Regions from separate parts of the Homo sapiens genome. Here regions 1, 3 and 4 are each linked to region 2. The links come from fine-mapping of genetic effects on gene expression. A gene starts in region 2. Each other region holds a variant in brackets. All regions are shown on one strand. Distances are between the middles of the regions. Region 1 overlaps CECR2 (CECR2 histone acetyl-lysine reader). Region 2 holds the start of CECR2 (CECR2 histone acetyl-lysine reader). Region 3 overlaps CECR2 (CECR2 histone acetyl-lysine reader). Region 4 has its middle 23 kb from the start of CECR2.

Evidence for each region. PIP is the estimated chance that this variant, and not a neighbour inherited with it, causes the effect. A credible set is the group of variants that fine-mapping cannot tell apart.
Region 1: its variant is the best candidate, but not a certain one, in a credible set for the expression of CECR2 in lung (TOPMed, PIP 0.56).
Region 3: its variant is the best candidate, but not a certain one, in a credible set for the expression of CECR2 in subcutaneous fat (GTEx, PIP 0.82).
Region 4: its variant is the best candidate, but not a certain one, in a credible set for the expression of CECR2 in lung (TOPMed, PIP 0.58).

The regions. Positions count from the first base shown.
Region 1 is chr22:17,400,376-17,407,878 of GRCh38, reverse strand. All of the region lies in intron 1 of CECR2 (CECR2 histone acetyl-lysine reader), which reads right to left. Among named protein-coding and RNA genes, the nearest start is that of CECR2, 35 kb to the right of the region's middle. The variant A/C (reference allele first, on the strand shown) is at 3,801.
Region 2 is chr22:17,366,351-17,373,853 of GRCh38, reverse strand. CECR2 (CECR2 histone acetyl-lysine reader) reads right to left here and starts at 4,394. Exons shown (of 19, transcript NM_001290047.2): 1 at 3,945-4,394. The coding sequence starts at 4,070. RefSeq lists silencers at 3,957-4,056, 4,067-4,136.
Region 3 is chr22:17,474,217-17,481,719 of GRCh38, reverse strand. CECR2 (CECR2 histone acetyl-lysine reader) reads right to left here. Exons shown (of 19, transcript NM_001290047.2): 2 at 4,038-4,132. Among named protein-coding and RNA genes, the nearest start is that of SLC25A18, 86 kb to the left of the region's middle. RefSeq lists an enhancer at 5,499-6,052. The variant C/G (reference allele first, on the strand shown) is at 4,003.
Region 4 is chr22:17,343,123-17,350,625 of GRCh38, reverse strand. No RefSeq gene overlaps it. Among named protein-coding and RNA genes, the nearest start is that of CECR2, 23 kb to the left of the region's middle. RefSeq lists an enhancer at 3,273-3,567. The variant A/T (reference allele first, on the strand shown) is at 3,540.

The DNA.
Region 1 (7,503 bases), 34 kb before region 2:
GACATTTTGGACTAGATGATGTTTGCTGTTGTTCTCAAGAGCTGTCTTACGCACTGTAGGCTATTTGACAATATTCCTGACCTCTACCCACACCCCTCTTCCCCTGAGTTGTGGCAACCAAAACTGTCTCCAGACACCGCCAAAGTCCTCTAAGAGGGCAAATCACCCCGTTGAGAACCACTGTTAGACAGGGTGCCTAACTTCTCCTATCTTAATTTCCTTAATCATCCACCTAAAACCTGAGGCTAAAATAAGGCCCTCTAATTCATGGCTTTTTTTTTTTTGAGACAGAGTCTCACTCTATTGCCCAGGCTGGTGTGCAGTGATGCGATCTCAGCTCACTGCAATCTCCGCCTCCCAGGTTCAAGCGATTCTCATGCCTCAGCCTCCCCAGTAGCTGGGATTACACGCGCCCGCCACCGTGCCTGGCGAATTTTGTGTTTTCAGTAGAGATGGGGTTTCACTATGTTGGCCAGGGTGGTCTCGAACTCCTGACCTCAGGTGATCCACCCGCCTTGGCCTCCCAAAGTGCTGGGATTACAGGCGTGAGCCACCGCACCCGGCCTCTTTCAATTATAGCCCAGTACGGTATTCTCATTCACCAGCCTTGCTCTATATCTCACTAGGATGATGCAAGCTTATACTGAAATAACTAAGGAAATGATTTTACACTGAATGATCCTTAAAACAACAACAAACTCCTCAAAGTCAGTAAGTGGCTATGAAAAGAGTTTATCTTAAGTTTCTATCCAAAGAAAGTATTGGTATAAAAGCTTCCCATTAAACTTCAAGAACACGGCTAATAAGCTAATACTCAAGTTATCAAAGGACTGGTAGTTTCTGAATCTGCATTTTTTGATTTGTACTTAAATGCTTCTTATACAAGGTGCTTCCCTTTGAAACTCACTGACACATCTGCTTGTTTACCTCACCAGTGTTCAAGAAGGATTTTAGGTTCCTCCATTTTCGCACGAGAATACCCCAGGCATGCCAGGCAGTAAAGGGTTAATTTAATTAGTTCTGTGTATGCTCAAAGAATTACAAGCAACTTCATGTAATTATTAAGCAGCCAATCAGGTAATCTCTGTGGTTGATTAGTGCACTAATGAAATAATGTCTTCCAGTTCAAAGCTGTCACTGCAATCAGGAGACAGCTCTTCAGCTAGAAGAAAGAGCTGGCAGGATTTCCAGACTCATGCTAAGAATCTGGGGAAGGGAAATGAATCATTTCATATTTCACCCCTATTGTATTAAAAGATAAAGAAGTCTCTGAATTGACATTTATAAGATACTCTAGCCAAGAACAGCAGAATACACATTCTTTTCTTTTTTTTGGAGGGAGGGGTGGGGGGAGGAACAGAATCCTGTTCTGTCACCCCCCAGGGTGGAGTGCAGTGGTATAATCTCGACTCACTGCAACCTCCGCCTCCTGGGTTCAAGTGATTCTCATGCTTCAGCCTCCTCAGTAGCTGGGATTACAGGCGTGTGCCACCACGCCTGGCTAATTTTTGCATTTTTTTAGTAGAGACGGGGTTTCGTCATGTTGGCCAGGCTGGTCTCGAACTCCTGACTTCAGGTGGTCCTCCCGCCTTGGCCTCCCAAAGTGCTGGGATTACAGGCGTGAGCCACCATGCCCGGTCCTACACATTCTTTTCAAGTGAAAATGAAACATTTACCAAAAGACACCATATTCTGGGCCATAAAACAAGTCTCAATACATTTAAAAGGATGCAAGTCATACAAAATGTCTTGTCTGACTAAAGTGGGTTAAATTAGATATCATTAATAGAAAGCTCTCTGGAAAATTCCCAAATATTTGAAAACTAATATTCTTCACACTTCTAATAACTAATACACTTCTAATATATTCGTATTTCTAAATAACCCATGGCTGCAGGAAGAAATAGAAAGGGAAAAGGGGAAGACCTGAATGCTTTTTCTCTAAGATGAGGAACAAGACCAGGATGTCTACTCTGGCCTCTACATTTTATGGTTGGCTCTAGACAGTGCACTAAGGTAAGAAAAAGAAGTAGTGGCTTCCACATTGCAAAAAGATGCAAAACTATTTTTATTTACAGACAACATGATCATCTATGCAGAAAATCCAATGGAATCTACAAACAGGTTGCTAAAAGGGGGGAGTTTAGGAAGGTTACAGATACAAGAGTAATATAACTCAACGCTATTTCTAATACTAGCAAACAATTGAAAATTTTTTTTTTTTTTTTTTTTTTTTTTTGAGATGGAGTCTCACTCTTTTGCCCAGGCTGGAATGCAGTGGCACGATCTCGGCTCACTGCAACCTCTGCCTCCTAGGTTCAAGCGATTCTCCTGCCTCAGCCTCTGGAGTAGCTGGGATCACAGGCGGCAGCCACCACACCCGTCTAATTTATTTTATTTTATATTTTATTTTATTTTATATTTTTTATTTTATCTTATTTTATCTTATCTTATCTTATTTTATTTGAGACGGAGTTTCGCTCTCGTTGCCCATGCTGGAGTGCCATGGCGCAATCTCGGCTCACTGCAACCTCCACCTCCCAGGTTCAAGCGGTTCTCCTGCCTCAGCCTCCTGAGTAGCTGGGATTACAGGCGTCCACCACCATGCCCAGCTAATTGTTTGTATTTTTTAGTAGAGACAAGGTTTCACTATGTTGGCCAGGCTGGTCTTGAACTCCTGACCTCAGGTGATCCGCCTGCCTCAGCTTCCCAAAGTGCTGGGATTACAGGTGTGAGTCACCATGCCTGGCCTAAAACTTTCAAAAATGTATAATAGCATCAAAAAGAATGAAATACTTTGGGATAAATCTGACAAAAGATGGGAGATACCTAAAGAGTTGAGAATTTGAATATAAAACTTTTCTGTCAGAAATCAAAGAAAACCTAGAGAGAGAGAGGTACCATCATCATGGGTCAGAAGACTCAATAGTGTTAAGAGGCCCATTTTCTACAAATTGACCTAGATATTCAATACAACTCCAATCTAAATGCTAGCAGGCTTTTTTTGTAGAAACTGATAAGCTAATTCTAAAATTCATATGGAAATATAAAAAATATAAAATAGCCAAAGCAACTTTGAAAATGAACAAAGTGAGAGGACTAACATTATTTGATTTCACTACTTATTAAAAGCTGCACTAATTAAGATACTGTGATATTGTCTTGAAAACAGAACAGAGTGAACAATGACATAGAACAGGGTCCAGGGCCAGGCGCGGTGGTTCACGCCTGTAATCCCAGCACTTTGGGAGGCCGAGGCGGGTGGATCACGAGGTCAGGAGATCGAGACCATCCCGGCTAAAACGGTGAAACCCCGTCTCTACTAAAAATACAAAAAATTAGCCGGGCGTAGTGGCGGGCGCCTGTAGTCCCAGCTACTGGGGAGGCTGAGGCAGGAGAATGGCGTGAACCCGAGAGGCGGAGCTTGCAGTGAGCCGAGATCCCGCCACTGCACTCCAGCCTGGGCGACAGAGCGAGACTCCGTCTCAAAAAAAAAAAAAAAAAAAAAAAGAAAGAACAGGGTCCAGAAATGAACCCACATGTATATGGAAAACTGACTTGGGCAACTAATAAAGGATAGTCTTTTTTTTTTTTTTTTTGGCAGGGGGGTCGGGGGGATGGGGACAGAGTCTCGCACTGTCATCCAGGCCGGAGTGCAGTGGCACGATCTCGGCTCACTGCAACCTCCACCTCCTGGGTTCAAGAGATTCTTCTGCCTCGGCCTCCCAAGTAGCTGGGAGTACAGACGTGCAACATGACGCCCGGCTAATTTTTGTTATTTTTAGCAGAGACGGGGTTTC[A/C]CCACATTGGCTGGACTAGTCTCAAACTCCTGACCTCGTGATCCTCCTGACTCCATCTCCCAAAGTGCTAGGATTGCAGGTGTGAGCCACTGTGCCCGGCCAGGGTGGTCTTATCTACAAATGCTACTAAACACATGCCCCCTCCCCACTCAAAAAAAACCCCACCAACTTCGATCAGTACTTTATATCATATGCAAATTATCAATTCAAAATGAAGCACAGACTTAAATGGTAAATCTAAAACAATAAAACTTCTAGAAGAAAATGTAAGAAACAAACCTTTGTGACCTTAGATTAGGAAAAAGCAAAACCAGAATATATAACAGCTCAATAGACAAAGAGTCCAATTTTAAAATGAGCAGAATACCTTAACTAGAAGATCACCAAAGATATAAATAGCTAACACAGAAAAAGGTGAACATTATTAATGATAAGGGAGATGCAGATCAAAACCACATTAAAATAGCCCTTCGCCCCCCACTACTGAATAGTGATAAGCAAAAGGACAGGAAATAACAAGTATTGATGATGTGAAAAAACTAGAGCCCCTTATTCACTACTGTTGAAAACAAACTGGTGTGTTTACTTTGGAAAACAAGTTTGCCAGTTTCTTTAGAAGTTAAAACATAACTCCAATTCTACTACTAAGTATTTGTCCAAGAAAAAAAGAAAGCACACACTTACAAGCAAATACGTGCAGCTATTATCTATAATAGCCCCAAACAAAAACAATCCAAAAGCAAAAACAATACATCATCTGGTGAATGGATAAAAAGTGGGTATAGCCAAACAATGGCAGTACCAAAAGAAAAAAATGAGGACATGTCTAAAGGAGAAAGGAGTCAACCTGAAAGAATTTCCAATGGCCAAAGCTTGAAATAATTTGAGCAGCTAAGTAAACAGTATTAGATTCAAACCCAAAGGATAAGTATCAATGAGTCCACGCTGATGACAACAGACTTAAGGAGACATGCGATGTCAGGTGGAATGCAGGAACAAATCTTGAAATGAAAAGATGGGGAAACTGCCGGGTGCGCTGGCTCACGCCTGTAATCCCAGCACTTAGGGAGGCCGAGGCGGGTGGATCGCCTGAGGTCAGGAGTTCGAGACCAGCCTCAACATGGAGAAACCCCGTCTCTACTAAAAATACAAAATTAGCTGGGCGTGGTGGCACATGCCTGTAATCCCAGCCACTCAGGAGGCTGAGGCAGGAGAACTGCTTGAACCCGGGAGGCGGAGGTTGCAGTGAGCCGAGATTGCGCCACTGCACTCCAGCCTGGGCAACAAGAGTGAAACTACGTCTCCAAAAAAAAAAAAAAAAAAAGAAGAAAAGAAAGAAAGAAAGAAAAGAAAAGATTGGGAAACTGTTGGAATCTAAACAGTCTGAAGTTTAGTTCATAGTACTGCACCAATGTGAATGTCTTAGTTTTAACAAATTTACCATGATTATAAGAGATTAAACATGAGAGGAAGCTGGGTGGAGGGTTTATAGAAGAGATCAGCAAACTACAATCCAAGGGCCAAATCTAGCCTACCACCTGTTTTTATAAATAATGTTTGACTGGAACACATCCATTCATTTACTCACTGTCTTATGGCAGCCTCTGCCCTACATCAGCACAGTAGTCTTAAGAAAGACCATTTGGTGTAAAATATTTATTATCTGGCTCTTGACAGGAAAAGTTTGCTGAGCCCTGATATACATGAAGTCTTTCTCTGTGCTGTCATTGTAACTATTCTATAAATCTAAAATGATTCTAAAGTAAATTTATTTTTTTAAAAAGTTAAAATGTTGGCCAGGCACAGTGGCTCACGCCTGTCATCCCAGCACTTTGGGAGGCCGAGGCAGGTGAACTGCCTGAGCTCGGGAGTTCGAAACCAGCCTGGGCAACATGGTGAAATCCCGTCTCTACTAAAAATACAAGAAATTAGCTGGGCATGGTGGTGGGCACCTGTAATCCCAGCTACTCGGGAGGCTGAGGCAAGAGAATCACTTGAATCTGGGAGGCGGAGCTTGCAGTGAGCTGAGACTGCGCTACTGCACTCTAGCCTGGGCAAAAGAGCGAGACTCTGTCTCCAATAAAAAAAGTTAAAATGTTGAGCTGGGTATGGTATTGAGCACCTGTAGCCCCAGCTACTCAGCAGGCTGAAGTGGGAGGAGTGCTTGTTGTATCCAGGAGTTCAAGACCAGACTGGGCAACACAGTGAGACCCCATCTGTTAAAAAAAAGGCAGCGGGGGCGGGGGGGGGTGTTAAATATTCACCTACCATATGACCCAGTCATTCTACTTACAGGTACTTACCCAAGAGAAACGGAGGCATGTGTCTAAAGAATGGTACACAAATTTTTGCCAATAGGTGCACTCAATAAACAAACTATAGTACTATCTATCCCTCAACTGGCATAGTACTCAACAATAAAAAGGAATCAACTACTGACGCATGCTACAGAATGAATGAATCTCCATTTACACTGAGTAGAACGAACAGGAACAACATCAAAAGAGCGTATATCTCATGTAAAAGTCTAGGAAATGTAAACTAACATACAGTAACAGAAAGCAGATTGGGGGGGTCACCCTGAGAGAAACACAGGTTGGGGTGAGACGGGGGCAAAGAGATTACAAAGGGACACAAGGATATCACACCCTCGCGTGGCGTTGGCGGACATGTTCGTCTTGACGTGGTAATGGTTTCACTAGTGTGTATATATATGTCAAAACTTGCCAAATTGTACACATAAATATTTGCAGTAGATTATGTCAGTTATACCTCAGTAAAGCTGTTTTTTAAAATAAGTTGCAAAAATATTCTTCTGGTCTTCTGATATCAAGCATTATGAATAAATAGACTAATCCATCAACAAACCTCTTCAGCTACCAGTTTCTGTCACCCGTCCCTCCTCACCTCTGGAACACTCTTTCTTTAGGGGAGATGAAGATTCTGAATTGTAGTCACACTTGTTCTAGAAGAAGTCTTTAGAAAATCCTGCAAGAATAAGACTCCCCTGGGGACTGGTCGCGGTGGCTCACACCTGTAATCCCAGCACTTTGGAAGGCCAAGGCAGGAGAATCTCCTGAGCCCAGGAGTTCAAGACCAGTCTGAGCAACATAGTGAGATCTCATCTCTACCAAACAACAACAACAACAAAAGTCAAAAAATTAGCCAGCCACGGTGGCATGCGCCTGTAGTCCCAGCTACTAAGGAGGCTGAGGCCAGAGGACTGCTTGAGCCCATGAGGTTGAGGCTGCAGTGAGCAAGAGATTATGCCACTGCACTCCAGCCTGCAACAGAGGGAGACCCTGTCTCAAAACAAACAAAAAAGACTCTCCTGGGATCCTGCCAACAAACTATACACAGGCAAGTGAGATCCCAATTACCTGGATAAGCAGCAAGGTATTTACAGAACAAACCCTCTGACCTCCCTCTTCTCTGCCCTTCTCAGACTTTCTGTCTTTCCCTTCGCTCTTAAGCCTGGGAGAAATGAAGATGTCAGCCAGCCTGGGAGTCAGAATGCAGCTCCGCCATAAAACAAAGACTTCAGAAATGAAATCACTCACGAGAAAAAGGACATTTCTCAAGAGCCTCCTAAGGATAAAGAGAGTTGGCAGGTGTGCCTAGCTTCTCTAACCTTATTCAACACCCAGCAAGCATCTTCACTGAGTGACTTTGTACCCTGCTATCCATTCCAGACCTCCTCATC
Region 2 (7,503 bases):
GTATAAAATTGCTGGTTCTGAAATATTAACAGATAATCTTCTGAGGCAAAGGAGGCCAGGTAAGAGCTTCTTTGGTAAATTTCCAAGTTCCATGTTAAGCACAAAGTAGGGGCTTAATGATATCAACTACTGAATTCAGTGTCATTCATCTGTTTATATCAACTACTGAATTCAGTGTCATTCATCTGTTTATATCAACTACTGAATTCAGTGTCATTCATCTGTTTTCCAGCTATACCTCAATCTCATCTGAAAAGCAAAAACATCTAACCTACAGAACAATTACACTGCGGGCATATTTAGGAATTTCTAAGTATGTTAACAGTGAATCACTTTTATCCCTGAGTGGAAGGATACAATGTTAACAGTTAACTTTTATCCCTGATTGGTGACCATGGGTGGTTTTAATTTTTACCTGTATTTTATGATAATTTTCACGTTTATATAATTTTTTTTTAGTATTTTTACAACTAGGAATTTTGAACTGAGATAAGGCATTACTATTATATACTTGGCAGGTTTCTTATCTAAAACTAAGAACCAAGTATTCGTTGACTCTTCTAAAGCAATCCTGTATATTCAAGGTTGATTAATAGAGTAAAAAGTTTTTTTATAATACAAAAATTAGCCGGGTGTGCTGGTACATGCCTGTAGTCCCAGCTACTCCGGAGGCTGAGGCGGGAGAATCACCTGAACCTGGGAAGTGGAGGTTGCAGTGAGCCGAGGTCGCGCCACTGTACTCCAGCCTGGGCAACAGAGTGAGACTCCGTCTCAGAAAAAACAAAAAATTTATTTAATACACACAAAAATAAAAATATCCACGTTTTGGGGACAGTTTTCTAAGTGGAAGGTCTTAATCTCTTGGAGAAGTGGGGCATGAATCCTGCCAGCCCTTCACCTGTCTTAGAGATTGCTTCACTTTAGATAAATGGAAGCCGAGTCCTTGAAGACTCTGCTTCCTCAATTTTCTATAAATCCATGAGTTCAGCCTGGTGAGATCTTTCCCACAGCTGAAAACTGGTTTCCTGAAATAACTGATACCCAACTTCTACTACTTGCTATTATTTATCATTTTTACCTTTTAAAGTTGCAGAAAATTAAGACTGTAGGGCCCTTCCACATGGCCTAACAGGTACGGCTCGGCATTTGAATTTTTTATCTTTTAATTAATTAATATATTTATTTTGAGACAGAGTCTCGCCCTGTCGCCCAGGCTGCAGTGCAATGGCACGATCTCGGCTCGCTGCCACCTCCGCCTACCGGGTTCAAGCGATCATCCTGCCTCAGCCTACGGATGTAACTGGGATTACAGGAGCGCGCCACCATGCCTGGCTAACTTTTTATATTTTTAGTAGAAACGGGGTTTCATCATGTTAGCCAGTCTCGTCTCGAACTCCTGACTTCAGGTGATCGACCCACCTCGGCCTCCCAAAGTGCTGGGATTACAGGGGTGAGCCACCGAGTCGAGAAAATACATTCTTAAATCTTAATTTTTAAATCTCACATATAATCATTCCCAATAAAATTCTAATTTTTGATAACTACTAAAAAGCGTAAGTTAAAATTTCCATTAGCCATATCAAAACATACCTGAGATGGATTAGACAAAAACTGCAGGTGAGAAAAGTCACTTTGTTATCCACTGACTGAACATCTCCAAATAAAAACGAGTGTGGATAGTTCTTAAAACCTGCATGTTTGAAGCCAAATATTCATTTCTGTTGCATGTATTTCAAACAGCATGTATTTTAGCCCCAAAAAAGTGTCATTTCCAAGAAACACTGGAGTCAAAAGAGAGGACAGTCATATCAAATAGCCTTGATTATTCACCATGTAAACTACAGTGATTTTTCATGTTATACATATAAATTTGACCTCTTTAATCAGTTTACATTTCCTTTAGGAATTAAACCAGCTAATTCTCAGAAACCACAAGTTTATTGCTTATAACAGAAGACAAGTTATTTACAGGTTACTCTAAATATGCTGCGAGTACTTAAGGCAAAATGAGTTACCTCTAGCTTTTCATCAACAAAATGGGAATACATGGATTTTGAGACATAAAGTTTTTCCAACAATATTTTTAGGATGGGTCTTTAAACTCTGAACTCATAATCCCAGCACCACCTCAACTTTATCTCGCAAGGAAGAAAAGGGACTAGGTGCAAGTTTACCAGCACCCAAGATGGCCCTGTCACAGGCGGCACCTCCCACCACAGCCACCATTTTGACTGCAGGATATAATTAAACTACTCACGATTTTGTACCAACTGAAAGAAAACACAGGACATCAGAGTAACTGAGAAACATCCTTTGACCTTTAGGATTCCCAACTCTTTAGCTTCCGTGTCTCTGTTTCTCTTCTTTCGTCAATATTAACAGTTGTCTAAAGAATATTTTCATTAATAAAATTATGCTTGCTACATTCACGTTCAAACTTTGAAAACAAACGCTGTGGCGCCACGTAAAATGCCCGTTATTACCTCTTCCTAAAAAGTGGAGAAGCCCACATTTCCTCACATTGTTTTAATCAGCTTAAGGAACTAAGAATCGCCAAAAGCCAGTGAGTGGCCCTAGACTATCTGTCTACATTCCTCTTCATTCTCCCATCCCCAACCCTTTTGATCTTTTTATTTTCCTGATTTCATTAACTGCGACGAGAGCAAGTTCCCACACTTCATTCACAGAAGAAGCAACTGATATTTCAGCAAACACGACTAAATCTAAAAATAAAGGTGAGGCAAAGAGCTCTGAAATAAACGAGTTAAAATCAACCCGAAAATGGCACAAAGTAAGATCCGTGGGGCTGGGGAGGCAACAACAACGATTTGCTCTTCCAAAAGAGTGGCTCTAATTTTGATTACTGCGTCGGCGAACCCATCCGCAGAACAGAAAACAAAAACTGACCAACGCAGTTGCCATTCACCTTTGTCCAAAGGCAAAAGGTGAAAAGTCACGACACATATTGCCATAGAAGAGAAGGCAATTCAACCTGCCAACCAATCGACTAATTCTCAGCTCCTTCCAAAAATAAAAATAAAAATAGGAGAAAGGGGGCTGCCGCTGGGCTGGCCGATGCCTGGCCGCCGAGTGCGCCGCGCTCCGCAAGCTCCCGCCACCCGCCGCGCTCCAGGACCCTCGGGTTTCGGCCCAGTTATCACAAAGCCCCGGGCTGGAAAACACCTCCGGCCTGGCCAGAATGGCCAGCCCGTCCTCCGCGCTCGCCCGGGGGGATAATGGTGGCGAGATCAACTCCAAGGGCTCCCGAGCCCCGCGATAAAGAGGCTGGATATTACGGGAGGAAGGACGCTGTGGAAGAATAACGGAGTCCCAAACTTTCCTTCCACACCTCCAGAGCCCCGCGCCCAGGCCCGGTCCCCACCGGCCCGAAGTTGGCCGGAGCGCCTCCCGGGAGCTTGGGGCCTCCGGGAGCCCCTGCCACGCGCCCGCCCGCCAGAGCGGGGCTAGCCCTCCCCGCCGGCCGCGGCCGACTCCCGCCCCGGTCCGAGTTAATCCCGCGCGGGCCCCCCCCCCGCGCCCGGCCCCGCCGGAGCAGCTGGCTCGCGCCTCAATGGCACCGGGCGGCGAGCGCGCGCAGCCCTCGCGCCCACACCCAGCCCCAGCCCACCGGAGAAGTCCCGGGAGGGTCGCCGGGTCCCGCTCCCGCTCCCTCTCCCACAAAAGCACGGGCCCGCCCCGCCCTCGCGGTGCCTGCTCCTCCACCCCAGGATCCGGCGTCCCCGGCCCGACGCCCCTCGGCACCCGGGCACAGCCCGGCGGCCCCCGCCCGCCCTCCTGCCCTTTTGCGCCCTCCTCCTGGCCCCCGACTCCCGGCCGAAGTCCCTCGGGCCCCGGCCCCTCTGCGCGACGGCCCGGGACACCCCGCGCGGGGCAGGGGGAGCAGGGGGCGCAGCGCGCCGCCTCCCGCCCGCGCGGCCACTCACCTCGATCTCGAAGTCGGGCAGGCGGAACGCGGTGCGAAAGAGCGAGCAGAAGTGCGCGATGGCCGGGACCTCCCACCAGGAGCGGAGCTCGCCCAGCCCGGCCGCGCCGCCCTCCTCTGGGCACATCTCCCCGCTGCGGCACAGGCGGCGGCCCCTCGCTGCCCGCGCTCTGCCCGCCGACCTGGGACTCCCGCCGCGGCAGCGCCGCAGCCTCCGCGCGGTCCTCGGCGGGGGCGGCGGGGCGCTCCTCCCGCTGCTGCCGCCGCTCGGCGAGTGCAGGAGCCGAGGGCGGGCGCCGGGCGGGGGGCGGCGGCGCGGGGGCCCGAACTACTGAGGCGGCTGCGGCTGCGGCTGCCCGCGGGGTCCGCGCGCTCGCCCCATCCCGCGGCTGCGGCGGCGGCCGCCCCCAGTCCCCTACAATATAATCGAGTCCCCGCCGGAGAAACAGATGGGGCTAGGGGCGGAGGGGCCGGACGCGGGGCCTGGGGGAGGGGCCGCCCACGAGGAGGGGGCGGGGCTGCCCGCGCCACAACAACAACCCCCGCCCCCGCCCCACCCCCGCCCGGACAGCTGCACCGCCAGGGAGGGGGAGGGGCGGGGCGCGCGCCCCCGGGCCCAGATCCGCAGGACCCAGGGGGCGCGGGCCGCACCCCCGAGAACTCTCACGAGGCGCCCTCCGCCCTCCAGGACTTTGGGACTGGGGAGTTGAAGCACTTTCCCAAGGGAGGACGGCCAGGAGCTCTCCCACCCCCACTTGGCCTGAGTGGTCGCGTCCTTTTAAAGGGCCCGCGGGGTGGTCCTTTCGGTCGGGCTAGAGACAGAAACGTGCACGTGTGGGAGTTCAGTTATTATTGATGCCGAGGGCAGAGCCGGAGCAGGAGCGGGCTGTCCACCCTAGAAATATGAAGCCTAGAGAAGTGAAGTGCTTTCCACCTGTTTCTTAACGCTTTTATTCCAGCCGAGAACGGCGCCCAAGGAGCTCTGAAGTGGCTTTTTTCTCCGAGGGAAGAAGGCGGTGGGGCTGATTGAGCTGGAACGAAGTAGGATGGAGGCTGGAGAGCGGCGGGAAGGGTGGGGTAGGGGGAGGCACCAATCAGCAGCCAAGCGGGAAGAGCGATCCCCAACCCCAGGGAATGGACACGTGTGACCGCCCCGGAGAAGACGGGCTCGGAACCCTGCTACTGCCCGGCCGCTGAAAGAGCTGCCTGGAAGAGTGAGCACAATGTGCTTGGAAGGCGGGGGGATGGGGCAGAGGAGATCGGGAAGCCGGGGACTGTGCTCGGAGGGGAGGAGACCCCCACGCCCCGGCGGAGGGATTGAATGTGCTACGGCCGAAGGGTGTTGGAGTGTGTGCTTTAGAAATGCTAACTGCTGTAGCGCGGTGGAGTACTGCTAAATCCTAAGAAAAAAAATCACCCCAGAAACAGGCTAGAAGTTTGGAAAAACTCCATTGAATGCTCAGATATTTGTATTGGTCGTCGCACTTGCATCCTGCTGGTCTCAGAGGGCCGCCTCTGAGTTCGGTGGTCCACCTTTCAGATAGGAAACACTGCTCCTGGTGCGTCCCCCAAATTAATCAACTATTTATTGAGTGACAGGCACAATCACAAAGTGTACAAGGGTTAAACTCAAAGATCCTCTTCTACCTTTAAGTAGTGTACAATCTGGAGATAATTTATATGATAGATTTTGGAATGGGCTGTCTGGATAATTACCCCTCCACTCTCCCTCACTTTATTATGATAATAACTTGTTGTATTTTTTAAGGCAGCATTCAGAAACATAATTTTAAATGGTTAGAGTATATTCACGTGCATCTTCTGTGAATCTAGTAATCTCAAAATACATCATCTTCTAACAAGGGTCTCCTCCGCCCCCCACCACTCTCTCCTGGCACAGAAAAACAACCCAAAGTTCTGCTCTTTCATTCCCTGGAACTATTTGATGATTTAAAGTGCATCCTCAAATTCTACCATGCTTTTTATTTAATGTTTGGCAAAAATGAGCTCACATGTGACTGCTCCCAAAAAGCCAAGCCTACGTTTGTGTGTGTTGGTGAAGCACAGCTACCCCGTGAGTATTGCATTAGCAAGGGAGATGGGAGAGGGACACAGGCCACCCCGGAATTGTCACGTAACCTGAACGAGGTGCTTTCTGGACTTGCTTCTCCGTCTTTTATTTCCTCACAGTTTGACTTTGCACACTTTTTCCTCTGTGTGAGTTGGCCGGGCGCGGTGGCTTACGCCTGTAATCCCAGCACTTTGGGAGGCCGAGGCGGGTGGTTCACCTTAGGTCAGGAGTTCGAGACCAGCCTGGCCAACATTGTGAAACCTCGTCTCTACTAAAAATACATAAAATTAGATGGGTGTGGTGGCAGGCGCCCGTAGTCCCAGCTACTCGGGAGACTGAGGCAGGAGAATCGCCTGAACTCGGGAGGCAGAGATTGCAATGAGCCGAGATCTCGCCATTGCACTCCAGCCTGAGCAGTAAGAGTGAGACTCCGTCTCAAAAAATAAAAATTAAAAAAAAAAAGTGTTACTGCGTTTCCCTGCCTTTATCTTTTGTCATCGTTTAAGCTTCTTCCCTCGCCTCTCAGTTGTCACCACTAGCCAGCCTAGTAATATTAGTGCCTAGGATATTAATGACACCAGCAAGCAGAGGGATGAGATGATTTGGCTACCTTTTAGTACGGTAGTGTGTTTAATGTCGTTTACAAACACCACCCCAGCCCCAATTTAAAGGCTGAGCCATTGTCTTCCTGCCTCCTCCGCCTACTGCCAAGCCCCGGAAATCAACAAGACTGTCCGGGAACGGCACGCGCCCCCTGGTGCTGCTCGGAGATCCGCCCTGTCTCTCAGGGCTCCTCCTCCCTTCTGCTGCCCTTTCCTTCTGAGGGTCTTCTCTGTTCTGTGGCCCAGCACACCAACTTTAGACCCATTTCCTCCCACCATTCTCTAACTCTGTTTGTCTCTACAGTTTTTTCCCTAGTTCCTCCACCTACCCTGCTACTCTGGCCTCAACTACCCTCTGGAACGGATCCTGGCCCCAGGAGCTGAGGGGTCTCAAGTGTCTTGGAATCAACAGTAAATCTCAATCTTGAGTTCCCCGAGTTTGGGCTCCAACCAGAGCTTTTCCATTTGGACCTTCTCTGGCCCTGTTAGGATTGATACCCTGAATCTTTGACCCTGCTTTGAACATCTGTGCCACGCCTCCCCTTGGACTTAACTGCCTCGGATCTATTTTCTGGACTAACTTCCAGCCTAACCTCCTAGAATCTAGATTAATGACCCCCTACCAATAGGCTGGCCACTCACCCTTCTTCCCTTCTCCCTTTGATTCGGAGTGCTATTGTACTTCTCCAGCCTGGCCCATTCTTTCACCCTCGAAACACTAGTTGAATCATCTTCCTTAAAAACACACAGTTTGCCGGGGCGGTAGGTGACGCCTGTAATCTCAGCACTTTGGGAGGCCCAGGCAGGCGGATCACGAGGTAAAGAGATCGAGACCATCCTAGCCAACATGGTGAAACTCCGTCTCTGCTAAAAATACAAAAAATTAG
Region 3 (7,503 bases), 110 kb before region 2:
AGGGGATAAAAATTTTTGTGTCTATCACAACCTCGTGTGACCACTGTCGTACATGAGGTCTGCCACTGAACAAAATGACAGTATGTGATGCATGCCTGTATTGACTATCTGGCCCTTTACAAAAAACATTTGCTGGCCCCTGTTCTAAAACATGCAAACCACAACGGAAAAGGATACAGACACTTGGTTGAGTCAAAATCTGTTTTCTGCTGAGCCTTTGGAGGAACTAGGCATAGTGTTTCATGATGATTACTCTCACTCATCATTTCGTTTAATCCTCATAATAACTTTACTGAATATTGTCACTAATTCCATTTTATAGATGAGGCGAATTATGCACAACTAAATGAAGTTACTTTTTTTTTTTTTTTTTTTTTGAGACAGAGTCTCGCTCTGTCACCCAGGCTGGAGTGCAATGACACGATCTTGGCTCACTGCAACCTCCACCTCCCGGGTTCACGCCATTCTCATGCCTCAGCCTCCCAAGTAGCTGGGACTACAGGCGCCCACCACCACGCCCGGCTAATTTTTTGTATTTTTAGTAGAGACGGGGTTTCACCGTGTTAGCCAGGATGGTCTTGATTTCCTGACCTCGTGATCTGCCCGCCTCCACCTCCCAAAGTGCTGGGATTACAGGCGTGAGGCACCGTGCCCGGCCTTTTTTTTTTTTAAAAAAAAAAGAGATGGAGTCTCACTCTTTCGCCCACGCTGGAGTGCAATGGTGCGATCTTGGCTCACTGCAACCTCCGCCTCCCGGGTTGAAGCAATTCTCCCATCTCAGCCTCCTGAGTAGCTGGGACTACAGGCGTGCACCACCACGCCTGGCTAATTTTTGTATTTTTAGTAGAGACCGGGTTTCATCACATTGGCCAGACTGCTCTTGAACTCCCGACCTCAAGTGATCTGCCCGTCTCGGCCTCCCAAAGTGCTGAGATTATAGGCATGAGCCACTGCGCCCGGCCGAAATTAAGTAACTTTTTAAGCTGCATAGAACAGTTTAGTCTTGGAGGCATAACAGGTAAACATTTACTTATCCAAATTTCTCTTTCTTTAGAATGAGATCAAAGTAGAACTTCAGACAAGAACGAGTGTACATTCACAGTAACCGCATGTGGAACCATCATTTTAGGCAATTCCCTTCAGGGAAAAAAGTAAAGTAGATTGTAGTGTTCTTTCTTGTCCAGGTTCTCTGTTACACAGGTGTGTTCAGTTTGTGAAAATTCATTGAGCTTTAGAATTAGGAAATGAGCACTTTTCTCTGTGTGTGTGTGTGTGTGTGTGTGTGTGTGTGTGTGTGTGTATTATACATGAGTAGTAAGTTTCAAGATGACTGCTGTCACTGGTACCTTGATCACAGACCTGTAAGCTAACTCGAGCTAAACACACCAGTAGTGGTTTGTCCAGGTTCCTGACCCACAGAAACTGTAAGATTACACTTTTTGTGGTTTTAAGTTGCTAAGTTTTAGGGTAATTTGTTACTTAACAATGGATAATACAGCTTGAAGCAGACATCAGTATTAACACTGAAAAAAGAGATAGATAATAATCCTAGAGAGTCAAAAGAATACTAACTCAAGAAAAAAATCAAGGCCAATAAACTCTGCAAATTAAAGACAGATACAGGGATACGGTATTCTATTATTTAATAAATACTTGTAGGGGCAAGGCACAGTGGCTCACACCTGTAATCCCAGCACTTTGAGAGGCCAAGGCAGCAGGATCGCTTGAGACCAGGAGTTCAAGACCAGCCAGGGAACACAGACCTTGTCTCTACAAAAAATTGTTAAAAATCAGCTGGGGATGGTGGCACAGTCCTGTCCTGAGCTACTCAGGAGGCTGAGGTGGGAAGACTGCTAGAGCCCAGGTTGAGGCTACAGTGAGACAGGATCCTGCCACTGCACTCCAGCCTGGGTGAAACAGCAAGACCCTGTCCCAAAAAAAAAAAAAAAAAAAAGAAAGACCACATTGTAGGGATGTCAATTTTGCCCACATTTCTTCATAGGTTTATTTGATTCTAGTTAGAATGATTAGATAAGGGGAGTTCTTAAAGAACAGGACATAACTTTGTAACCACTATCTGGAAGAACAAACAAGCAGAATTAGTTAAGATCAATTTTAAACAGAAGGACAAATTAGAGGATGAACTCAGCCACGGAGGAATATCCTATGAGAGAAAACAGCCCATATGTGAAGGCTCAGTTCACAAGTCACTTTCTTACCCCAGGTTGTATGCTCTGTTAATATGTTGTATTTTTATTTCTAAGCACTTACTGTTGTAATTACATAACTGGCAACTATATAATCATTACTGTAATGATTCATGGACCTCCCTGTCACAACTGTGAACTCTAAGAGATCTGGTGAGTGTTTGTGCTGCCAGTACCTACTAGTCTGTGTACAGAGGGCTCACAAGGATCATCCAAGCAGACACTCTCACGCACTGATCATTTAAGGCTAAAATACAACCACCTCTGTGACGGGAAACCTGGCAAAAGCCTTTAAGCCTTGCTTAAAATGAAGATCTTAAATGGGCATATCTTTTGACTGAGTGATGTACTTCCAGGAACCTGGTGAATTTTGTACAAAGCTATGCATTATATATGTTTATAACAGCTAAAAGCTAGACATAACTTGTCAGCTACCAGACTGGATTATTTGACAATGACATTTAGAAAATGTGGTTATAAGAAAACTGATTGCTATAATGAAAAAAAATTCCAGGTTATGAAAATGTGGAATTAAACACAAGGTACGAATACAACAGTGCTTAAAAATTACAAACTCCCAAGTCTACATCCTAAATAGAGAACGGAAGAAAATATTCTAAGGTATATTTTATGTTTATTTTTATTTACAAATACAACCTGGGTATTCTAGGGGGAAAAGTCATTATACTTAGTGCACGAGCAATAACTCTCCCCTAGAGAATGCAGACTTCCACCCTGAGAAAAACAGCATTTACATCTCCTTCTTACCTTGTCTACAACTTTATTGCACATTAACAACAAGCATCGTTTCCCAGCCCTAACAGACTGAATTCGTTAGAACAAAAATATCTGATACTTGGCCAGGCGCGGTGGCTCACGCCTGTAATCCCAGCACTTTGTGAGGTCGAGGCGGGCAGATCACGAGGTCGGGAGATCGAGACCATCCTGGCTAACACGGTGAAACCCCATTTCCACTAAAAATACAAAAAATTAGCCGGGCGTGGTGGCGAGTGCCTGTAGTCCCAGCTACTCGAGAGGCTGAGGCAGGAGAATGGCGTGAACCTGGGAGGTGAAGCTTGCAGTGAGCCGGGATTGCGCCACTGCACTCCAGCCTGGGCGACAGAGTGAGACTCCGTCTCAAAAAAAAAAAAAAAAAAAAATTTGATACCATTTTACCTATCTGAGAAAGGCAAACCATAACAACTCAAACCCCCTACATGGCATCAGAAGGCAAGAGACCAGGAAACCCATTGCATCTCACCTTTTTGTGAGTTTGCCCTGTAGTTCTGTCCTATATAGACACATAGCAAAGAAACGTGTATTAAGTAAAGATCAAAACAAGAGGTCCTATCAGGACTCTCCTTTATTTGTCTCCATACATCACATTTTGCTCAATGTCTCTACACATCTCTCTTTTTTTTTTATTACATCAGTGCTGCTGGCTATGTAAACAACAGAAGATACTCAAATGACAGAAAGGTAATAAAAACTAGTTTTGATTTCTTAGGCAATACTTTACCAATACTGCAAAATCAGAAAATGGCAAATATAAGAAGAAATTCTACACTAAAATATGTTAGCTGGGGTATCCAAGAGTAAGTGATATGGATTTGTGAGAATGAAATAAACTCAAAGATTATGATGGAATAAAAACCCAACTGCAGAATAAGCCAAACACAGCCTGGAAATTTACGTGTACGTCCTCCATCTACAGTGTCCCGTGATGCCTAATGATCGGTTCTGGTTTGTCACAGGAGACAGGAAACATCACTATGGTTGGTTAATTAGTTCTTGG[C/G]GCAAGAAATGCTTAGAAAGATCAGAATTACTCACGTGATATCTCTTCGTTGATAGCAGCCCTGAAGCAGGCAGGCAATCAGGTCACTGATAAACTCCACGTCATCTCTGTGAAGAGCGGCTTCTAACTCCTGAGGGAGGGAGAGAGGGAAGTTGAGAAATCAAACAGAGATTTCTTAAAATACACACCCCTTCCTACCGCCAGCACAAGCCCCAAGAACTGAATGGTCCCAGCAGCGGAAGGACTTGCCAGAGATCAGCTCTGCCCTTCCTTCTGGCTACTGTGAGAAGAGCAACCGGATTCCGCGTTTTCTTTTTCCCAGGGTTTTATTTCTCTCACTACTCCCTCCCCAACCCCATTCCTCTTACCGGCACATGAGAAGAAACACACATAACTCTTTTTGATAAATCAATGCTAGCTGCATAATTAAAGAGCTTAACTCTTTGATTATATATAATCGAGTATAAATACAAATGTGCTGTACTGCTATTTTAATCGCAAAAGAGAGGAAAGGAGTGCTCATGTAATTGTTTATGAAACATTTGTCATTTACTCAACCTTCTCAAGAGATAAACCATCTGCAACAGCTTTAAAGAACCACTGTATTTTGAATGGCATTTGTTAGTAAGTGATAATGACAATTTTTATTTTGGGATGCCACACCTACATGGCTGATGAAAGGTGATTGCGAGATCCAAGGCTAATCTTACATCATCTAAACAGAATGAGGTAACGTCTCTGTGAATGTCTTTGCTTTCCTTGGGGTTCAGCTTGCCTCGACACGGTATTCCAACAAGCAATTGTTTGGAAAGGGACCACTGGACAAAAAGTGGTGGTGGGGAACTTTAGGAGATCCTATTTCCCTTCCCAACACCCCCAAAATAAGCAGGTATTTTCTTAGATGACAGAATGTTTTCTAGGCCATCAAGTCTCCTACTAGAAAAGTTTGCCCACATTCTTTCAACCAGGATGCAATCTTCTGCATGCAAACCATTTCCCAAGAGTCTGCTCCCTATGGTTTGACTTGCTCATAACCAGATCAGTAATCCCCAGAAAAACCAAACTTCTGACAATCTTATTAACGGTTCTGAAAAGTACGAGATGTGCATAAGATGCAAGTTGTGATCTTAACAGCAATTACATGATAGCAGACACAAAACGGGGTGGGGTTTCCTTCTTATATAGAAATAATACGGCTCTGGCCAGGCATGGTGGCTCACTTGAGGTCAAGAGATTGAGACCAGTCTAGCCAACATGGTCATACCCTGTCTCTACTACAAATACAAAAATTAGCCAGGCATGGTGGCACGCACCTGTGATCCCAGCTACTAAGGCTGAGACACAAGAATCGCTTGAAACCAGGAGGCAGAGATTGCAGTGAAATGAGATCGTGCCAGCGTACTCCAGCCTGGGCGACAGAGTGAGACACTGTCTCAAACAAACAAAAAACACAAATCAATCAGTACTAGCAGGTACAGAAAACACGCTATGGGAGCTGAGAAGAAAAGGGTTACTTCTGCTGTGGAAGCCTGGGAGATTTCGTGAGATGGTAATTGTGACCGAGTGACAATGGAGAGAGGCAGGGCATGACCAGGTGCAGGAGGATATTAGGTTCAGTTTAACTATTCTTTAGATTATGTGAAGGGGAGTAATGTGAGCTGAGATTGACAGGCGATCCTGAATACCCAGCTAATGAGTTTGGCCTTTCTTCGGGAGACAATGGAGATCTACCTCAGTTTATTTCTATAGAGAGGCAAAGTGAGACTAATCTAGCTGCTGTGTATATACAAGGAATTCTAGTGGTAGAGGGTGGGAGGGGAGATGTTAGCCCAAGCAACAGCACAAGAGGAAGGTTCTAAAGGACTTACTAAATGAGAGAACGGAGAAATAGGAATTCAAGATCTGCCACAAGTAAAGGCCAGCCGAGGCGAGGGAAGACTTGAATGGCTCATGTTTTAAGCTGGGCACTGGGCAAGCCTCCCAGTGACTTACAACAGAAGCAAAATCTTCAAAGCCAAAACTCCCAGGCCAATCTCATTTGATAGGTAAGTCAGAATCAGCTAGAGCCGGAAATGAAACTACAGATCACGTATTTCCATTCTCTCAATTTAAAGATGTAGAAACTAGCCGGGTGTGGTGGTGCATGCCTACAGTCCCAGACACTTGGGAGGCTGAGGTAGGAGGATCACTGAGCCCAGGAGTTTGAGACCAGCCTGGGCCACACAGCAAGACCCTGTCTCTTTTAAGGGAGAAAAAACAACAACAGCAAGATAAACTAGGTCCAGAAAGGTTAACTGGCTTCTCCAAGGGCACTAAGCAAATCAGTGACAGAGCTGAGTGGAAACCCAGGTCACCGAGTACAGTGTTCTTCCCAAAACCAAGCTGCTCCCCCCGGCCAATGTTCTCCATTCTAGAAAGGCCTGATGGTTTCTACAATTACAGTGACCGCCCCAACCACTGTGTCTTTTCTCTAAGAGCCCTCACATGTACCATTCTCCCTAGGTGGAAATCCCGTCCCTCTGCTGAACTGTACTGCAGTTCTTTACGGGAGAAACTTTATCTGCAAAGTCTTCCCAGCCAAGCTCCCCCACGCTGCTCCCACCAGTGCTCACTGTCACTGTGGCGTCCATGCATCCCCAGGTTTCTACACGTCCTGTTCTGTTCCCTTCCCTGCCATCATAAACTAAGAGCACAATCGGATCGTGATTAAAGGTGCTACAGTCTGTACTAACTAATTTCTCCTAAGATTTTTTTAAGCATGGAAGTACCAAATTAAATAATAAAGGCAACACTGGAGGCTGAGATGGGAGGATTGCTTAAAGCCAGGAGTTCAAGACCAGCCTGAGGAACATAGCGAGACCCCATCTCTACAGAAATAAATAAATAACAAAGGCCACATTTGAGAAGATAAGCTAAGAACTGGGAGGGTGTTTTCAAGGAGGTGACTGCATAAAGTTTGCCGTATGGTTCATGTGGCATCTCCTTAGAGGATCACTTTTACTATGTGGTTTCCAAGAAATTTAATTACCTTTTTCTCCATCTCCGCCTTCGGCACACAGACATCCTCTTCTGGCTTCCGCCTTTATCATGGCCATTTTCACCAGCGCTGCCTAGGTTCTAGCTAGAATACTATCCTCCAAGGAGGCAAGACAAGTTTTCTACATTGTAGCAATAATGTCAGGAGTGCCTTTTCTTCTAACACAATAGAAAGTAGAATATCAGGGATGCTGGACTAGCTCTTCCAAGGAGAATCGAATAGGCTTAAATGGTCCCTCAAAGGACACACATAGGGAGAGGAACTCTGCGTCACTTATTAAATATTCCAACTCTTCTCCCTTACCTACCATATTCCCCATTTCACCATCCCTGGAATATAGTAACTAACTCATGAAGTCATTAAAAACAGGGTTCAACATGTAAAATTGCTTTTTAAATATAATTCTATGATATTATGTTTACTGTGTCAGAAGCCACCCAGAAAACCCACCCAAAAATTTGCAG
Region 4 (7,503 bases), 23 kb after region 2:
ACTCCCATTGTGCAAAGGGTGTTTAGCAAGATGGAGCCTGAGAAGAATGAAAGTCAAAAGTGCATTGTGATTTCATGGTCCAGAGATGCCTTAAGGGGCATGTGGGTCAACCTCCCACCCACTGAGGAATGCCTCCTGACATCTCTGAGGACACGTCAGCCTGCATTTGATCACTTTCCATTTACAGCATTGGGAGTCACTGCATCGGGAGGCAGACGACTCTAGTTTTGGTCAATTCTAACTATTCAAAGAATCTTCTTTTACAGTGAAGTGAAATCTGCCTTTCTGTAAATTTAACTTGATGATTGAAGAGCAAGATTAAAATGTATTACTTGGCCGGATGCAGTGGCTCACGCCTGTAATCCCAACACTTTGGGAAGCCAATGTGGGTGAATCACCTGAGGTCAGGAGTTCGAGACCAGTCTGGGCAACATGGTGAAACCCCGTTCTCTACTGAAAATACAAAAAATTAGCCAGGTATGGTGGTGGGTGCCTGTAATACCAGCTACTTGGGAGGCTGAGGCAAGAGAATAGCTTGAACTTGGGAGGGGGAGGTTGCAGTGAGCCAAGATTGTGCCATTGCACTCCAGCCTGGGCAACAAGAGTGAAATTCCATCTCAAAAAAAAAAAAAAATTAGCCAGGCTTGGTGGCAGGTACCTATAATCCCAGCTACTTGGGAGGCTGAAGCAGGAGAATTGCTTGAACCTGGGAGGTGGAGGTTGCAGTGAGCTGAAATCATGCCACTGCACTCCATCCTGGGTGACAGAATGAGACTCCATCTCAAAAAAAAAAAAAAGTATTACTTTCTCTTCCACGTAATAATAGCCCCTTGAAGACGCTAGTCAGTGCCACTCTAAGATTTCTCTCTTCTGCAAGTAAATACTCCCACTTCATTTATTTAATATTTATTTGTTCATTTATTCAGAGCAGGACCCAGGTGTGAATTGTTCATTATTGCATATCCAGCAACTAGAGCAGTACTTGGTTGTAGTAAGCAGTAAATAAAACAAAACCAAAACGAAACCAGAAATCATTTATTGAAGGTCTTTTCTGTGCCACGCACGGTATCCAACTGTAGATTTAGATTTACGAAGTTCAGTAAACCAGGGTCCATGCAGTTCAGCAATTAAAGTCTAGAGAGGAAGGCAAACAAATAAATCAGAGATTAGAGATCTGCATGTAGGCACAATATGTTATGGGGAGCACGGACAAAGAACATCCACACTAAGCTAGGACACCAGAGGACGCTTCCTGGACACGGAGATGCTTCAGTGCAGCTTGAAGGACATGTGTCCTTTGGGTGGACAAGGGGGAAGCTAAGAGGCGCAGTGGCATAAAATAGTCGCGTCACTCGGAGTGTCTGGGGCAAAGCATGTTTGTTGGTTGTGGAAGAAGAATGAGGCTACAGATGTAAACAGGATTCAGGTGAGGAAAGTCCTTTTGTGCTCAGCTCACAGTTAAAGCTTCATGCTGACACATTTGGAGAAGCCACTGAAAGAGTTTAAGCAAGAAAATGATAGAAACTGTTTACGTTTAGAACATTGGCACAATGATGGAGAATGGCTTGAAGAAGCAAAGGGAACAAATAGGTTGTAGTCAGAAAGACGAGTTAGAAAATAGACTGAAGTCACAAAGGCTGAAGTCAGTAATTCAGGCAGGAAGCAGTGAGGTCCTAACCGAAGGCAACAGCAGAGGGCATGAAGAAAAGGAGGAGTCAGGACAATATTGTGCAGCTAGAACCTACAGGCTTTGGTGACTGATGTGTGTTCTGCTTGAGAAATACGTGTCCTAGATTACTTGTGTTGGGAATAACACTTAAAATCTTAAGGAGATTGAACACTCAAACAAAGGATTCTTAGCAAAGCAATTTTACTTTTGCGCAGAGGGGTGCTTTTCCTTGGCCGGTCACCATGAGAGCACACCTGAACAAAGGCGCACGAGAGCCTTTATTCCTGATGCCAAGTCCTGCCCCTGTACCCTTTCCCCATTGGCCAGGGTCGGGTCGCACAAACTGAACTAATCCCGGTTGGCTAGACATTTGAACTCTTTTTAGATAAGGTGGACACGTAAGGGAGAGAGGGGAAAAGGGGAAAGGGTATCTGTAATGAGTTAGCGAGCTAGTCTTTTTTATTTTTTTATTTTTTTATTTTTTGAGACGGAGTCTCGCTCTGTCGCCCAGGCTGGAGAGCAGCGGCGCGATCTCGGCTCACTGCAAGCTCCGCCTCCCGGGTTCACGCCATTCTCCTGCCTCAGCCTCCCGAGTAGCCGGGACTACAGGCGCCCGCCACCACGCCCGGCTAATTTTTTTGTATTTTTAGTATAGACGGGGTTTCACCGTTTTAGCCAGGATAGTCTCGATCTCCTGACCTCGTGATCCGCCCGCCTCGGCCTCCCAAAGTGCTGGGATTACAGTCGTGAGCCACCGCGCCCGGTCATCTTTTTTTTTAAATAAGGAAAGAATGTGAGCTGGTACTGATAAGCCTGGTACTGTGGCGTGTCTGGGCATGTAACAAAGGCAGAAAGGAAAAAAAGAGAGAAAGGAAAAAGGGGTTTAAGGGTATATGAATTAAAGAATAAAGGATTGATAGGGCTATTTGAAGAGAAACCTCATCATATCCCACACTCGCGTGACTGGGCGAGGGATGACCTCACTGCCTGAAATCCAGACTATGGCTCTTCAGAGAAAGTTGAAGCAAGCAGGTATACACGTTGTAACCCTGAGGCACGATGAGCTGATGACCAGCCGGATGCACAGGACCAGCAGGGAGGTCCCAGTGGACGTGGTGCGGGAGCCAGCAGGGTGTAGCAAGCCCTTCGGGAGGCTCCCCAGGGAGGACATGGGAAGGGAGGGGGGCCAAGAACTAAGGACAGAGCTGTGGTCCTTCCCTCGTTCCTTCCTCGCATAGCGTGGATTCAAGACTTTTGTTGTTGTTGTTGTTGTTGTTGAGACAGAGTCTCGCTCTGTCCCCCAGGCTGGAGTGCAGTGGCGCAATCTCGGCTCACTGCAACCTCCGCCTCCCAGGTTCAAGTGATTCTCCTGCCTCAGCCTCCCAAGTAGCTGGGACTACAGGAGCGTTCCACCACGCACGACTAATTTCTGTATTTTTAGTAGAGACAGGGTTTCACTATGTTGGCCAGGCTGGTCTCAAACTCCTGACCTCAGGTGATCCGCCTGCCTCAGCCTTCCAAAGTGCTGGGATTACACGCATGAGCCACGGAGCCTGGCCCAAGACTTCTTTTTTTTTTTTTTTTTTTTTTTTGAGATGGAGTCTTGTTCTGCCACCAGGCTGGAGTGCAGTGGCGCGATTCCAAGACTTCTTAAAGTCCTGTTGAGCCTTCTCAAGGTTCTTCTTGGGATTGTACCTAACAAAACAAAGCAAAAGTTATTTCACCAACGCCCAGTATGACAGTGTTGCTTCCTTCCCTTGAGCTGATAAGCATGTTTATCTTAAGACAACCAAGCTAGCATTAGGGTTTTGGCAGCTCATCACACCATTGGTTCATATTGAGTCCAGAGACAACAGAAACCCCCCAATTT[A/T]AAAATAAACAGTCAGGCTGGCTGGGCATGGTAGCTCACACCTGTAATCAAACCAGCACTTTGGGAGGCAGAGGCGAATGGATCACTTGAGGTCAGGAGGTCAAGACCAGCCTGGCCAACATGGTGAAACTCTACTAAGAATACAAAAATTAGCCAGGCATGGTGGTGGGCACCTGTAATCCCAGCTACTGAGGACGCTGAAGCTGGAGAATTGCTTGAACTGGGGAGGCGGAGGTTGCAGTGAGCTGAGATCGTGCCATTGCACGTCAGCCTTGGCAATAGATCAAGACTCTGACTCAGATAAATAAATAAATAAATAAATAAATGGTCAGGCCAAGATCTCCTTCAACTACTTTTCTGTAATTGGTTTTTGGGATTTGATTACACAATTTTATATTTGCCTACTAGAAGATGACCCTTTCAGCCTGCATTAAACAGGCCTTCACTGCTGTCAGAATAAAGGTGCCACATGCCAGTATCATGTAGAGAATGTAAAGAAGCTTCAGAAAAGCACTGGAAAATAGCACCTACAGGAAGAGGCTGATGAGATGATGCTGCATTGTTGTCGCTGGAGAAAAGTCATGTTAAATGTGCTAATTGGCTCTGCCAAAAACAATTATGATTTTTCAGTCTCATATGAGAGACTTTAGAAATACAGAAATGTATAAACAAGAAAAATTTTGAAATCACCCATAAAAATGCTCATGTCATTACATTAAGGGGAAAAGAATACAAAATTATATATATAATTTTATTTTTATTAAAAAATATTTGTGTGGCCGGGCACGGTGGCTCAAGCCTGTAATCCCAGCACTTTGGGAGGCTGAGGTGGGCAGATTGCAGTCAGGAGTTCGAGACCAGCCTGGCTAACATGGTGAAACCCCGTCTCTACTAAACATACAAAAATTAGCCAGGCGTAGTGGCACACTCCTCTAGTCCCAGCAACTCAGGAGGCTGAGGCAGGAGAATTGCTTGAACCTGGGAGGTGGAAATTGCAGTAGCAGAGACCACGCTACTGCATCCTAGCTTGGGCGATGGAGCAAGACTCCATCTCCAAAAAAAAAAAATTATGCAAGGCAGAGCACTAATCTTTAAAATAGGTAAAATAATACTTCTTCATAGTGTTGTGAGGATTAAATAAGCAAAGTATTCCTGGCACACAGTAAATTTTTTTAAGTAACTATTATTAAGGAAATATAGTAAAAATATTGTTTGTCTTTGGGCTATATGACAACGATGGCCACCTCCTCAACCTTCTTTCTATTTTTGTGCATTTCTCAAATATTCTATTACGATTATGTGTTACCTTTATATGGAAAAAGATAAATTTTAATGGAAAAACAATACATACTAATTGTAGAGATATAGAAATAAACTAAAACACAGTATTGTAGAAAACAAAATTGCCAGCTGGGCACAGTGGCTCACGCCTGTAATCCCAGCACTTTGGGCGGCCAAGGTGGGTGGATCACTTGGGGTCAGGATATATATATATTTTGTTTGTTTGTTTGTTTGAGACGGAGTCTTGCTCTGTCCCCCAGGCTGGAGTGCAGTGGCGCGATCTTGACTCATTGCAACCTCCACCTCCTGGGTTCAAGCGATTCTCCTGTCTCTGCCTCGTGAGTAGCTGGGATTACAGGCACATGCCACTATGCCCGGCTAAGTTTTGTAATTTTAGTAGAGATGGCATTTCACTATGTTGGTCAGGCTGGTCTGGAACTCCTGACCTCAGGTGATCCACCCACCTCGGCCTCCCGAAGTGCTGGGATTACAGGCGTGAGCCAACGTGCCCTGCCTTACATAAATTTTTTTTTTAGAGATGGAGTCTTGCTCTGTCACCCATGCTAGGGTGCAGTGGGGCGTGATCTCTGCTACTGCAACCTCCACCTCCTAGGTTGAAGCAATTCTCCTGTCTCAGCCTCCTGAGTAGCTAGGACTACAAGTGTGTGCCACTATGCCCGGCTAATTTTTGAATTTTTTTTCTTTTTTGAGACGGAGTTTCACTCTTGTTACCCAGGCTGGAGTGCAATGGCGCCATCTCAGCTCACCTCCGCCTCCTGGGTTCAAGCGATTCTCCTGCCTCAGCCTTCTGAGTAGCTGGGATTACAGGCATGCGCCACTACGCCCAGCTAATATCGTATTTTTAGTAGAGACTGGGTTTCTCCATGTTAGTCAGGCTGGTCTCGAACTCCTGACCTCAGGTGACCCACCTGCTTCGGCCTCCCAAAGTGTTAGGATTACAGGTGTGAGCCACCGCGCCTGGACTAATTTTTGTATTTTTAGTAGAGATGGGGTTTCACCATGTTAGCCAGGCTGGTCTCGAACTCCTGACCTCAGGCAATCTGCCCGCCTCAGCCTCCCAAAGTGCTGGGATTACAGGCTTGAGCCACCGCAGCCCGGCCACATAAATATTTTTTAATGAAAATGAAATTATATATATAATTTTGTATCCTTTTCCCCTTAATGTAATGACATGAGCATTTTTATGGGTGATTTCAAAATTTTTCTTGTTCATACATTTCTGTATTTCTGAAGTCTCTCATAATGACCACGTGTTATTTTAAAAATAGTATTCACTTTTACTAATCATAGTAATGTATGTCATATAATGAATAATATAGTAGAATAATATATAATACATGCTCAATGTGTAAAACAAAACTACAGAAAAATCCACATCACATAAAGAAAAAGTAGCCGGGCTCAGGGGTTCATGCCTGTAAATCCAACACTTTGAGAGGCTGAGGGGGTGCACTGCTTGAGCCCAGGAGTTTGAGACCACCCTGGCCAACATGGTGAAACCCTGTCTCTACAAAAAATACAAAAATTAGATAGGCGTGGTGGCGCGAGCCTGCAGTCCCACATACTTAGGGGATTGATGTGGAAAAATCGCTTGAACCCAGAAGGCAGTGGTTGCAGTGACCCAAGATTGCACCTCTGCACTCCAGCCCTGGTGACAGAGTGAGACTCTGTCTGAAAAAATAAAATAAAATAAAAATTAGCTAGGTGTGGTGGTGTGCACCTGTAGTCCCAGCTACTCAGGAGGTGAAGGTGGGAAAATTGCTTGAGCCCAAGAGGTCGAAGCTCCAGTGAGCTGCAGTTGCACCACTGCACTCCAGCCTGGGCAGTGAAGTGAGGCGCTGTCTCAAAAAAAAAAAAAAAAGGAAGTAAGAAAAATAAAAATAAAAAAAGAAATGAATAAAAAAAATTGTTGAGGCTGGGCACAATGGCTCATGCCTGTAATACCCAGCACTTGGGGAGGCCAAGGGCCAAGGTGGGAGAATTGCTTGAGGCCAGGAGGTCAAAACCAGGTATCACAGGGAGACCTCACCTCTACAAAATAATTTTAAGGCCATGGCCAGGCATGGTGGCTCACGCCTGGAATCTCAACGCTTTGGGAGACCAAGGTGGGTGGATCACTTGAGGTCAGGAGTTTGAGACCAGCCTGGCCAACATGGTGAAACTCTGTCTCTACTAAAAATACAAAAATTAGCTAGGCATGGTTGAATGCACCTGTAATCCCAGCTACTTGGGAGGCTGAGGCAGAAGAATCACTTGAACCTGGGAGGTGGAAGTTGTAGTGAGCTGAGATCTCAACACTGCACTCCAGCCTGGGCAACAGAGCTAGACTCTGTCTCAAAAAAAAAAAAAAAATGCCGGGCGTGGTGGCTCACGCCTGTAATCCCAGCACTTTGGGAGGCCAAGGCGGGTGGATCACAAGATCAGGAGTTCAAGACCAGCCTGGCCAAGACGGTGAAACCCCATCTCTACTAAAAGTACAATAATTAAGCACCTGTAATCCCAGCTACTAGGGAGGCTGCGGCAGGAGAATCATTTGAACCTGGGCGGCAGAGTTTGCTGTGAGCCAAGATTGTGCCACAGCACTCCAGCCTATGTGGTGACAGAGTGAGACTCCGTCTCAAAAAAAAAAAAAACGGATTTTAAGGCCATAGCGGGTACAGTG